3 linked regions of the Homo sapiens genome follow. The protein of the gene in region 2 purifies or fractionates together with the protein of the main gene of each other region. This does not show direct contact. Each region holds a gene or a part of one and is shown on either strand. Other genes may lie near its edges.

What was found.
Region 1: the proteins of OR13G1 (region 2) and BEND6 purify together in Homo sapiens (affinity purification with mass spectrometry; one large-scale study listed by BioGRID and IntAct). This does not show direct contact.
Region 3: the proteins of OR13G1 (region 2) and DENND10 purify together in Homo sapiens (affinity purification with mass spectrometry; one large-scale study listed by BioGRID and IntAct). This does not show direct contact.

What each region holds. Positions count from the first base shown.
Region 1 is NC_000006.12:57,020,883-57,024,477, forward strand, and holds part of BEND6 (BEN domain-containing protein 6), read left to right. Parts: intron 1-3,595. UniProt on the Homo sapiens protein: Acts as a corepressor of recombining binding protein suppressor hairless (RBPJ) and inhibits Notch signaling in neural stem cells, thereby opposing their self-renewal and promoting neurogenesis.
Region 2 is NC_000001.11:247,676,906-247,681,081, forward strand, and holds the start of OR13G1 (olfactory receptor 13G1), read right to left. Parts: upstream 2,835-4,176; 5' UTR 2,735-2,834; intron 1-2,734. UniProt on the Homo sapiens protein: Odorant receptor.
Region 3 is NC_000010.11:119,134,889-119,138,485, reverse strand, and holds the end of DENND10 (DENN domain-containing protein 10), read right to left. Parts: intron 2,016-3,597; coding exon 1,839-2,015; 3' UTR 1,430-1,838; coding exon of another isoform or gene 1,418-1,429; 3' UTR 502-1,417; downstream 1-501. UniProt on the Homo sapiens protein: Guanine nucleotide exchange factor (GEF) regulating homeostasis of late endocytic pathway, including endosomal positioning, maturation and secretion, possibly through activating Rab proteins such as RAB27A and RAB27B.

The DNA of each region.
Region 1 (3,595 bases), on a different chromosome or scaffold from region 2:
AAAACTCATCTCTGACTATATCAGCCAGCAGAATGTTAAAGAAGTGAAAGTTAAGAGATTTTTATATCAGTTTTGCTTGTACTTAACAATAGAAGTGTTATTAAATCTGCTAGCTATGGCATTAATTAAAATTGAAACAAGGAACAGACATTTTGCTATGAACTTTGTGCCTTTTGAACCTGAGCCTGACTTAATAGTGCCAAGTTGTTTAGACTGGAAATGCATGTATTTTGAATCAGTAATGGAGATTAGCTAGAATGGAATTTTTTAAATTTGCAAATATCTTTCATTTTAAGTATGGTTGAATTCAAATTATTGCAAAAAGGACTGAGGAAAATATGCTGGAAAAGACAGGGTCAGGTAAGACCTAATTTGGACATGCTTGATAAATTAATCAGATATAGCACCATCTAGTGGAATACTGTTATATTTTTCTGTTCTCAGTCATTTAACTCACAGGAGCCTATGGCCCTGCCCTGCCACCAAAAATATTCTTTGAAAAACTTACTTTTCTAGCATGGTCCCTGTGGTAGACCGTGCCCTCCACTCAGTCCTGAGCTCAGGTTGTCACTGGTGGCTTAGATTTAAAAGGGTAACAATTTCCCAGCTATGGCTCAGGTCTGTGAGGGTAAGGCCTAAATTCCTCCCTTTTTTTAATATATTCTTTCTTATTCCTGTGGCTGCCCTAAAGTTGCCTGTAGCTCTCACATGCAAGAGCTTGATTTTTTTCCAGCCTGTCTCCATTTTTTACTTCTTTCTTGCAGGCATTGAAGAAAAATGTATTTATAAGATTTACAGAATATTAGGCTATCACCTCTATAACATCCAACTAAGTGACCAAACTGCCTTCTCCTGAAATTTCCAAAGCGGCCTCAGGGTATATAATCTCTGGCGTAATGTTACATAACATATATTATAACTTATAGGTGATCTAATACAGTGGTGCTAAAATGGTGGGGGGCGGCGGAGAGGGAGGTGTGATTTAGCCACCTTCCTCCAACGCAGGGTATTTAGGAATGCCTGGAGATATTTTTGATTGTCAAAACTGGTGGTACTTCTGGCATCCGGTGGTCAGAGGCCAGGGATGCTGCTAAACATCGTTGTTGAATTTGGTTTGCTAGTATTTTGTTGAAGATTTTTGTATCTGGCTCATCAGTGATGCTGGCCTGTAGTTTTGTTTTTTTGTTGTGCCCTTCTCTGGTTTTGGTGTCATGGAAATACTACTTTGTAGAATGAGTTTGGAAGTATTCCCTCCTCTTCAATTTTTCTTTTTTTCTTTTTCTTTTTTTTTTTTTTTTTTGAAGAATTAGAGCAGAACTGGTATTACTGTCTCTTCAAATGTTTGTAGATTCAGGGGTAAAGCCATCAGGTACTGGGCTTTTCTTTGATGGAAGACTTTTTATTATAATTTTGATCTTGTTACTCCCTATTGATTTGTTGAAGTTTTCTATTTCTTCATGGTTCAATCTTGCTAGGTTGTATGTGTCCAGGAATTTAACCATTTCTTCTAGGTTTTCCAATTTGTTGGCAAAGAGTTTTTCATAATACTCTCTAATGAGTCTTTGTATTTGTGTGGTCTCGGTTATTATGTATCCTTTTCCATGTCTCATTTTATTTATTTGGCCTTCTCTTTGTTATTTCTTAGTCTGGCTAATGGTTTGCTGATTTTCTTTGTCTTCTAAAAACACCAGTTTTTTCTTTCATTGATCTGGTTTTTTAAATCTCCTTTTTTGTTTGTTTGTTTTTTGTTTTTTGGCTCTGATCTTTATTATCTCTTTCCTTCTACTAGGTTTAGGCTCCGTTTGTTCCTGCTTTTCTAGTTCTTTGAGGTACACCATTAGGTTGTTTATTTGAAGTCTTTCTACTTTTTTGATATAGGTGTTTATTGCTACAAACTTCCATCTCAGTACTGCTTCTGCTGTATAGTATAGATTTGGGAATGTTGTATCTCCATTTACATTTGTTTCAAGAAATTTTATACTTTTTTTCTTAATTACTTCATTGGTCATTCACGAGCTTGTTATTTAATTTCCATGTGTTTGTGCATTTTCTGAGACCCTCAGGTTATCAGTTTCTAGTGTCATTCCATGGTGGTCATAAAAAATACTTGATATGATTTCTACTGTTTTGAATTTATTGAGACTTGTTTTGTGGCCTAGATATAGCCTATTCTGGAGAACGTGCCATGTGTTAATGAAAACAATGTGTATTTTATAACAGTTGGGTGAAATATTCTGTGAATATCAGTTTGGCCTATGTGATCTATGGTGTACTTTAACTCCAGTGTTTCCTTGTCAATTTTCTGTCTGGAGGATCTGTCCATTATTGAGAGTGAGGTGTTGAAGTTCCTCAGTATTATTATATTGCAATCTGTCTCTCCCTTTAGATCTATTAATGTTTGCTTTATATACTTGGGAGCTCTTGTGTTGTGTGCATAGACATTTTAAACTATTATAGCCTCTTGCTGAAATGACTTCCTTATTATTATAAGTGACCTCCTGTGTCTCTTTTTACAGTCTTTGACTTGTACCTGTTTTACCTGATATAACTACTTCTGCTCTTTTTTGGTTCCCAGTTGCATCACGTATCTATTTCTACACCTTCACTTTCAATCGATGTGTGTCTTTATAGGTGAAGTGGCTTTCTCATAGGCAACATGGTAGTTGGGTCTTGTTTCTTTGCATTCAGCCATCCTATACCTTTTAATTGGAAAACTGAGTCCATTTACATTCAATGTTACTATTTTTCTTTGAGGCAAGGTCTTACTCTTGTCCAGGCAGTGGTGTGATCATGACTCACTGCAGCCTCAACTTCTTGGGCTCCAGCGATCTTCCTACCACAGCCTTCTGAGTAGCTAGGACTATAGGCACATGCCACCACACCTAGCTAGTAAGCTAGGATCTCACTATGTTGCCTAGGCTCAGTGTTATTATTGATCAGGACTTACTACTGCTATTTTGTAGCTTGTATATTTTCTAACTCCTCTCTTCCTTTCTTCCTTTTGTACTGTCTTCCTTTGTGGTTAAATGATTTTCTCTGGTAATATGTTGTAATTTGTTGCTTTTTATTTTTAGTGAATCTATTAAAGGTTTTTGCATTGTGGTTACTATGAAGCTTATAAAAATATACACATAAGAAGTTGTTTTTAAAAGATGACGATTTTTATTACAAAGAAGTTTTAAAAAAACTTTATAAAGGGGTTTCTTAGGTCTACGGTTTAATTGCATTCACCCCACATTTTGACTTTATGTTGTCTCATTGACATGTTTTTATATTGCCTATCTCTTAATAGGTTGCTGTAGATGTTATTGTTTTGATACATTTGTCTTTTGAGCTTTGTAGTGGTGTTATGAGTGGATTGTAAATGACAATTACAGTTTTAGATAATTTTAGGTTTGTTTGTATACTTAATTTTACCAGTGGGTTTTATACCTTCAGATGTTTTGTTCTTGCACATTAGCATTTTTGTCTTTCAGACTAAAGAGCTCTCTTTAGATTTCTTATGAGACTGTTGGTGATGAATTCTCTCAGCTTTTGTTTCTCTGGGAAAGATTTTACATATCCTTCGCATTTGAAAGATAACTCTGCTGGATAC
Region 2 (4,176 bases):
AAAAGTAAGCAGGTTTTGAGGAGTGCGATTGGAAAGGGAAGAGGAAAGAGAAGATAAATTCCAATAAAACTGGCCTGGTGTGTGGTTCACACCTGTAGTCCCAGCACTTTGGCAGGCTGGGGTGGGCAGATGGCTTGAGCCCAGGAGTTTGAAACCAGCCTTGGTAACATAGTGAGACCTCGTTTCTACAAAAAATACAAAAATTAGCCGGCCTGTAATCCCAGCTACTTGGGACGCTGAGGCAGGAGAATCGCTGGAGCCTGGGAGGCGGAGGTTGCAGTGAGCCGAGATTGTGCCACTGCACTGCAGCCTGGGTGACAGAGCCAGACCCTGTCATAATGAAATAAAAATAAAAATAAGAAAAGATAGGACTACTTGAGATTATTATATTCTAAGGTAAGGAATTATTTTGTTGTTAAGTAGTCGATAAGGGAGAAATTTTAGATTTCTGAGAGAGGAAGTAGTATGTGACATACCCCAGTTTTAGAAAGCCAGCCCTGAAGGCATCATAGAGGATGAATTCAGAGGGAGACAGTATTTGTCCATCTTAAATGGAGACTGTGTTTACAGGCACCACCTGGTTTGTAGAACATTATCAATTTAAGTTTAACAATAGGATTTATTTATAATAATGAATTGCCAGAATAAAATGAAAGTGATATAGAATTGCCAGAATAAAATGAAAGTGATATAAAACTACATACAGAAAAAACTTAGACCATTTTGTCTGGCAGGATGCAGTGCACTGCCAAATAAACACTGGCAACCTTTTCCTGGAAGGAGTGAATTGAGGTCACATTCTGTTTACTTACTTTAGAACACCAAACATTTACTAATAATACACAATGATGCTTGATTTATGTGCCATTCACCATGCTATTTTGCTGAATCATGAGGATAAGTTTAAGAATTAATAGGGCCGGGTGCGGTGGCTCACGCCTGTAATCCCAGCACTTTGGGAGGCCAAGACGGGCGCATCACCTGAGGTTGGGAGTTTGAGACCAGCCTGACTAACATGGAGAAACCCCATCTCTAATAAAAATACAAAATTAGCTGGGCATGGTGGCACATGCCTGTAATCCAGCTACTCAAGAGGCTGAGGCAGGAGAATTGCTTGAACCTGGGAGGCGGAGGTTTCAGTGAGCCGAGATCGCGCCATTGCACTCCGACCTGGGCAACAAGAGCGAAACTCTGTCTCAAAAAAAATTAATAATATTTATGTCACTATTTTACATATGAAGTAGTTGGTGAAATTTGGTAGTTATCAAATGTGCTTATTGTCACACAGTCAGACACTGGCGACATGGAAATCTGAATCCAGGGAGTCTAATGACAAAATTCACTCATGTTGCATTTTATAAGCCAATGTTATACCTATGTCAACTCCAACAGCACAGTTTATTCTTATGTATCCATTACATCATTATCATCATCTCCGTCTTCAAGTATTTTCATCTTCATTGTCATAATAAACAATATCGGCACACGTTTAAAGGGCCTATGTTGTCTAAGGCAAGGTACTAAGAACTCCCCACAGCAGCCACTGTGTTTTATGGGGACAGAGTGATACAAATTTCCTCGTACTCTCATATTCCTGAATGACTTCTGTCAGACAGTTTCATTCTAGGCCACTTTCTATTAGGTAGGGCTACGTCAGAGGTGATTCTAGTTCAAGCATCGTTTAAGGAGAATGTTACATTCTCTTCAGCTTAGCTTCACTGTTGAAGTACTAGAAAAGAAGTGAAAGTAGCTACTTCTTAATTTTCTAGGTTTCGAAGTGATCAGAGAGGTAGGAAAGGAAGATCAGTGTGAAGGCAGTATAATAAATTGTAAAAAGAGAAAAGGTGGCGGAGATTAAGGAGAGTCAATACCTGCATACAAATCATGGCCCTACCCTACAAAGGATAATCAACCACTTGGTTAGCCAGGGATTGTCCAAGTTTTGCCACTGAAAGACCCACATCCTAGGAGACCTGTCAGTCTCAGGCAACCTGGGAAAGTTGGTCACCCTAGGACATCTGAAGCCAATGCAATTCCTGTCTGAAAGCATTTTATTCTCTATGTTTGGGAAGACATTATTTTTCACATTTACATTGTTTTCTAAGTTTTGGAAGAAATCTTTTTTTTTTTAAATTCAACTCTGAACATGCCACTCACCATTTTATAGAGTCTGTCACAGATTCTTATATATGTAGGTAGAATATGAACACTAAATGAGTAAATGAAACCCTTGTAAGGTTCTATTTTTGAGAGGCGTTTTAAGCAGCTTGGAGCATCCTGATACAATGAGAAGTTTTGCAAGCTAATTCTTAAACTATTTAGCTAAGTCTTTATGATAATTAAAGAAAGGACATATTCTAAAACAATTTCTCATACATGTCAAGCATTCCCATAACTTGGTAAAGTATGTTAACCTAAATTTAGTTGACTGTCTTTTAAACTCCAACTTTTGCATATTTGATATGAAAGGAAAAATTTTGAAAGGCTGGCAGGCAATATAAATACTTGCATCATCAGTATTTTGATACATTGATAGCATAAAATCCCCTGTTTTGAATTAAAGTACAATCCGCGGATGGATTGTGTGTGTGTGTGTGTGTGTGTGTGTGTGTGTGTGTGTGCGCGCTATGGCTAAAAAGGAATTAAATATGTTACCTGGCTCAAAAATATCCCTACTCAGGCCATGATTTTATGGTAAACTTAAGAATTAGACAGTCTGCCCACAAATACTCACTGTAGTTTTTTGCAGAGTATTGTCATGTTCAAATGGTGACCTGTATTAAATCACTGTAAAAAACTAAAAGTACAGTAGCTCTTGCCAGTTTGCTATCAAATGAGCTCTTTCATGCTTGCTTTAGTATTGGTTTATTTATACTTAAGATCAATGAAAAGCATGGTTCCTGACTCAAGGACAAGGGACCCCAAGGAAGAGCATCTTGAAGTGATTTGCTATTAGTTACATTAAAATGTATCCCAGAGGAACAGTTTTTAAAACCCTGAACTAATTACCAATTATGATGTTCAATCACTTGGTCTTTGTGTGTCAACCTTTTTCTGTGAAGACCAAAAGGTATCCCGAGATAATGTCTTCATGGAGTAGGAAACCTGAATAATGAGACACAGTGGAAATGCTGGTGGGAGATTTAAAGAATAAATGGATGGACATTGTTATAAAAGCAATTACATCTGCTTCGGAGATCTTCTCCCAATATAAACTTAGACAGTGTTAAAAGAAAAATCTTAGACAAGTTAAATTTAACAGAGTTCATTTGAGCAGAGAAAATAAAAAATATTTATGAACCAGATAACATTCAGGACCAAAAGCAGTGCAGAGAGCTTCATCCTACAAGGCGTTGCAGGCAATATTTATAGCTGGAGAAATGGAAATGACATGCGGAAATAACTTGATTGACTAGAGTTCTGTGTTTGCTTTATTTGGATGTTTTGGCAGGTTTCGGCCTACAGTTGGCTGAAGGTTAGGCTGCTATGATTCGCTGAGATTTTGCTACTTGTTATAATGTATGCTCTGAAGTTAGGTTGCAGGTTGTTTACACATTAAGTTAGGTTACAGTTTACCATGTACACAGGCAGATTTAGGACAAACAGTTCAATTTAATAAGAGGAAGAGTGGTAGGAAATGAATTCCAAGATGAAGGTTAAAGCAAAGTTTGTCATTTAGTCCTCTACTCTGTGCAGGCCTGGAGGATCTTACAAATAAAATATGAAATGCAATTTGGTTTTCATTTGTTTAATGTAACACGCAAACCCTTCAGCTAAATTTCTTTCTGAATTGTTTGAAAAACTGTTCTGTACATCCTTTTGCTGTTTATGCATACCCAAACACAAATGCAACTCATCTGTGTGATGTACGCATAATGAAATAACATTGTCTCTATCCCTCTTGCTGAATAGCCTCATAGTTTGAAATGTTCATTAGAATTCAAACACACATTTACATGTTTACCATGTATTTCTTTCTCCTATTTGTTTATCTTAAAGAAAAGTTACATGGGTAAATATCAGATCACTTTAACAGCTTTTTAAAGCTTCCAGACAGTGATCTAAATGCTTATTTCACATTTATTGTAAGCATAGTATTACTAAATATTAGTTAAGTATATCAAACTATCAATATGAGAGCAAGTAAGGGGCAGGAATTATATGTAGTTGTCATCA
Region 3 (3,597 bases), on a different chromosome or scaffold from region 2:
CGAGTGGAGGAGGGCTAGGGCGGGAGGAAAGGGTGTGTGGGGGACGGCTTGAACTTTTTTTTTTTTTTTTTTTTGAAACCAAGTCTCGCTCTTTTGTCCAGGCTGGAGTGCAATGGTGCAGTCTCGGCTCACTGCAACCTCCGCCTCCCTGGTTCGAGCAATTCTCCTGCCTCAGCCTCCCAAATAGCAAGTAGCTGGGATTACGGGCATGTGCCACCACACCCAGCTAATTTTTGTACTTTTAGTAGAGATGGGGTTTTACCACGTTGGCCAGGCTAGTCTCAAACTCCTGATCTCAGGTGATCCGCCCACCTCGGCCTCCCAAAGTGCTGGCATTACAGGCATGAGCCACCGCGCCCTTGGCCGTCTTGAACTTTCAGACAGGTCTTTTAATAATTCCCTAGCGCCCTCACAGTTGAAAAAAGGTATTTTTTCCCCATTTTCTTTGGAATGAGCAGTATTAGAGAAAGAGGGGACAATTCGTCACCCACCTAAAAGTAGTTGAATATCAAAATATATCAATTTTATTTCTGCATCATAAATTTATAATTTTAACAACTTTGATCATTAGCTAATATAGTAATACAAAAAAATGAGAAAAAAGATGTTAATATTCCTCATTTCCATAAAGTGCAGATTTAATTTTCAATTATTTGCCTTAGTAAACATTGTCTTATTTCAGGTACTCCCTGCCCTCACTCAAAAAAAAGGGAGGGTGTTTAATTTTTATTGAACAAATATGTAATACCAAGAAAAAGATGAAAGACCCAATAATGTTTTTTGCAAACATGTTTCCAGGTAAGATTTCCAAGGACATCAGTACTGAGTGAAAAATAATCCTTTACAGTCAATATGAATGAATACACTAACAAGTACATCATTTAGATCTCCATGCTTATTTGGCAATTCCAGTTATGAAAAAGGTACATAAATAGTACAAACAATTGGCTTGACATGTGGCCAAACTACTTTCATCGAAGTTGCTGGAAGCCTTTCTCTGGTTTTGGCCCCTGTAGGAAGTTAATCTCATATTCCCTTAGCAATAATATAAGGTCACTGTTTCAGTCCTACACACTTTTATATTCAATGGGCTTCTTAGTTTATCACATAAGGACTGGCACTTTTTTCAAAAGAATATTGCTAACAGGGTTAAATGAGTGCTAATGGCTGAACGTTTGCCAAATGCTTACTTCTGCGATAGTATAAATATGGATTATTAAAGTTGTCTACTCAAGTATAAAATATATGCAAAACTCTCATAGGCAAAATGTTCAAAGGCCGGGAAAAACCTTTTTTTTTTTTTTTTTTTTTTAACTTTTACGAGAAAGTGCAACTGCAGGGTCTCTTGAATGATCTTCTAGACAGTTCCGCAGAAAATTAGCAGTTTGGCTCAGAAAGTAGAGTTCCTCAGGAGGAATTAAAGTTCTTCCTAGAAGAATACAAAGCAACGTTTCAGGCAGCTTTCTGAAAATAAACCATTAGCTTATGCCTACACAGCGAGACAAACTGGAACGTGTAATAATGAAGGCTTTCACATTTGTTGTGATGTGCTTTTTTTCTCTTACCCCAGGACCTCTAGCTGTTCTGTAATGTTACATAAAGTAGTTATAGCACTTCGTCCAGCACTGACAGCAGGCAGGAAGCTAATCAGCGAGGAGAAAATCGGAAGTGTGTTCATGTGTTTCATTGTTTTTCAGGTCAAATCTCAATACTTGCAAATAAATCATTAAAAAGATATAACAGTTTCTCTGTTATTTTCAGGACTTCATGTAGTGAGTGGGTAATCAGAGTGAAAGAGGGCTTTCTATCAGTCATCAGTGATACGTTCTGTCACACAGTCAGATTTTCAGCATTTGTTCGGCTGCTGCTAGATGATAAAGGAAGTTTTCTGTTGCTGGTGGAAATCGTTTTTGCTTTAGCGCCTCCAAATTAAGGACTCTCTTTTCTCCATCAGCCGAAACTTCTGAAAACGGTGCTAGGTTGGTAAAGATTTCTCTTGTTTTTAGAGCAATATCCTTTAATAGAACAGGAAAATATATGCAACATGTTAGTATCCGAAATTTGAATATTTAGTCTCTAGAATTCTTCCTATTTTTTCCAGACTGTTTATAAACTATGAAAAATGAGCTTGGCGTGGTGGCTCATGCCTGTAATCCCAGCACTTTGGGAGACCGTGGCAGGAGAATGTCTTGAGTCAGGAGTTAGAGAATGCAGTGAGCCATGATTGCACCACTGCACTCCAGCCTGGGCAACCCTGTCTCAAAAACGAACAACAAAAAAGATAACTCCTTTTTTTGTTGTTGTTTTCGAGACAGGGTCTCGCTCTGTTACCCAGGTTGCAGTGCAGTGGTTCAATCATGGCTCACTGCAGCCTCGACCTCCCAGGCTCAAGTGATCTACCCACCTCAGCCTCCTGAGTAGCTGGGACTACAGGCATGCGCCACCACACCCAGCTAATTTTTAAATACTTTTTGTAGAGATGGGGTTTCACCATGTTGCCCAGGCTGGTCTCAAACTCCTGGGCTCAAGCAATCTGCCCACCTTGGCTTCCCAAACTGCTGGGATTATAGATCTGAGCCACTGCATCTGGCCTGATAATTCTTTTTAAAGAAAAAATTAGGAAAAATGAAACAAAATTAACTTAGAAAAATCATAGTGTGTGGTTTTGGTTTTTTTTTTTTTTTTTTTTTTTTTACAATTTTAGTCATTTTCTGAGTGTATAATTCAGTGGCATTAAGTACATTTGCAGCGTTGCACAACCATCACCACTATTTCCAGCACGTTTCACCATCACAAACAGAAACTCTACCCATTACACAATAACCCCATTTCCCCTCGCTTAGCCCCTGGGAACCTCTATTCTGCCGTCTAACTCTGTGAATTTGTCTGCTCTAGATAGCTCATATAAGTGGAATCATACAACATTTACCCTTTAGTGTCTGGCTTATTTCATTAGCATGGTTTCAAGGTTCATCCATGCTATAGCATGTATCAGAATTCTATTCCTTTTCTCCCCCCCAACAAAAGCCACATTCAAAACATTCCATTCCTTTTTAAGCTGAGTAATATTCTACTGTATATAAAGACTACATTTTGCTTGCCCATTCATCTGCTGAAGGACACTGGGTTGCTTCTGCCACGTTTTGGCTACTGTGAGTAACACTGCTATGGATATTTCCATACGAGTACAGTCATGCACCACATAATGACGTTTTGGTCAACCAGGGACCACATTTACAATGGTAGTCCCATAAGATGATAATGCTATATTTTTACAGTATCGTTTCTTTTCTTTTTCTTTTTTTTTTTTTTTTTTTTTTTTGAGACAGTTTTGCTCTTGTTGCCCAGGCTGGAGTGCAATGGCACAATCTCGGCTCGCTGCAACCCCCGCCTCCCGGGTTGAAGCGATTCTCCTGCCTCGGCTTCCCAAGTCGCTGGGATTAACAGGCGCCCACCACCACACCCGGCTAATTTTTGTATTTTTAGTAGAGATGGGTTTCACCATGTTGGCCAGGCTGGTCTTGAACTCCTGACCTCAGGTGATCCGCCCGCCTCGGCCTCCCAAAGTGCTGGGATTACATGCATGAGCCACCGGGC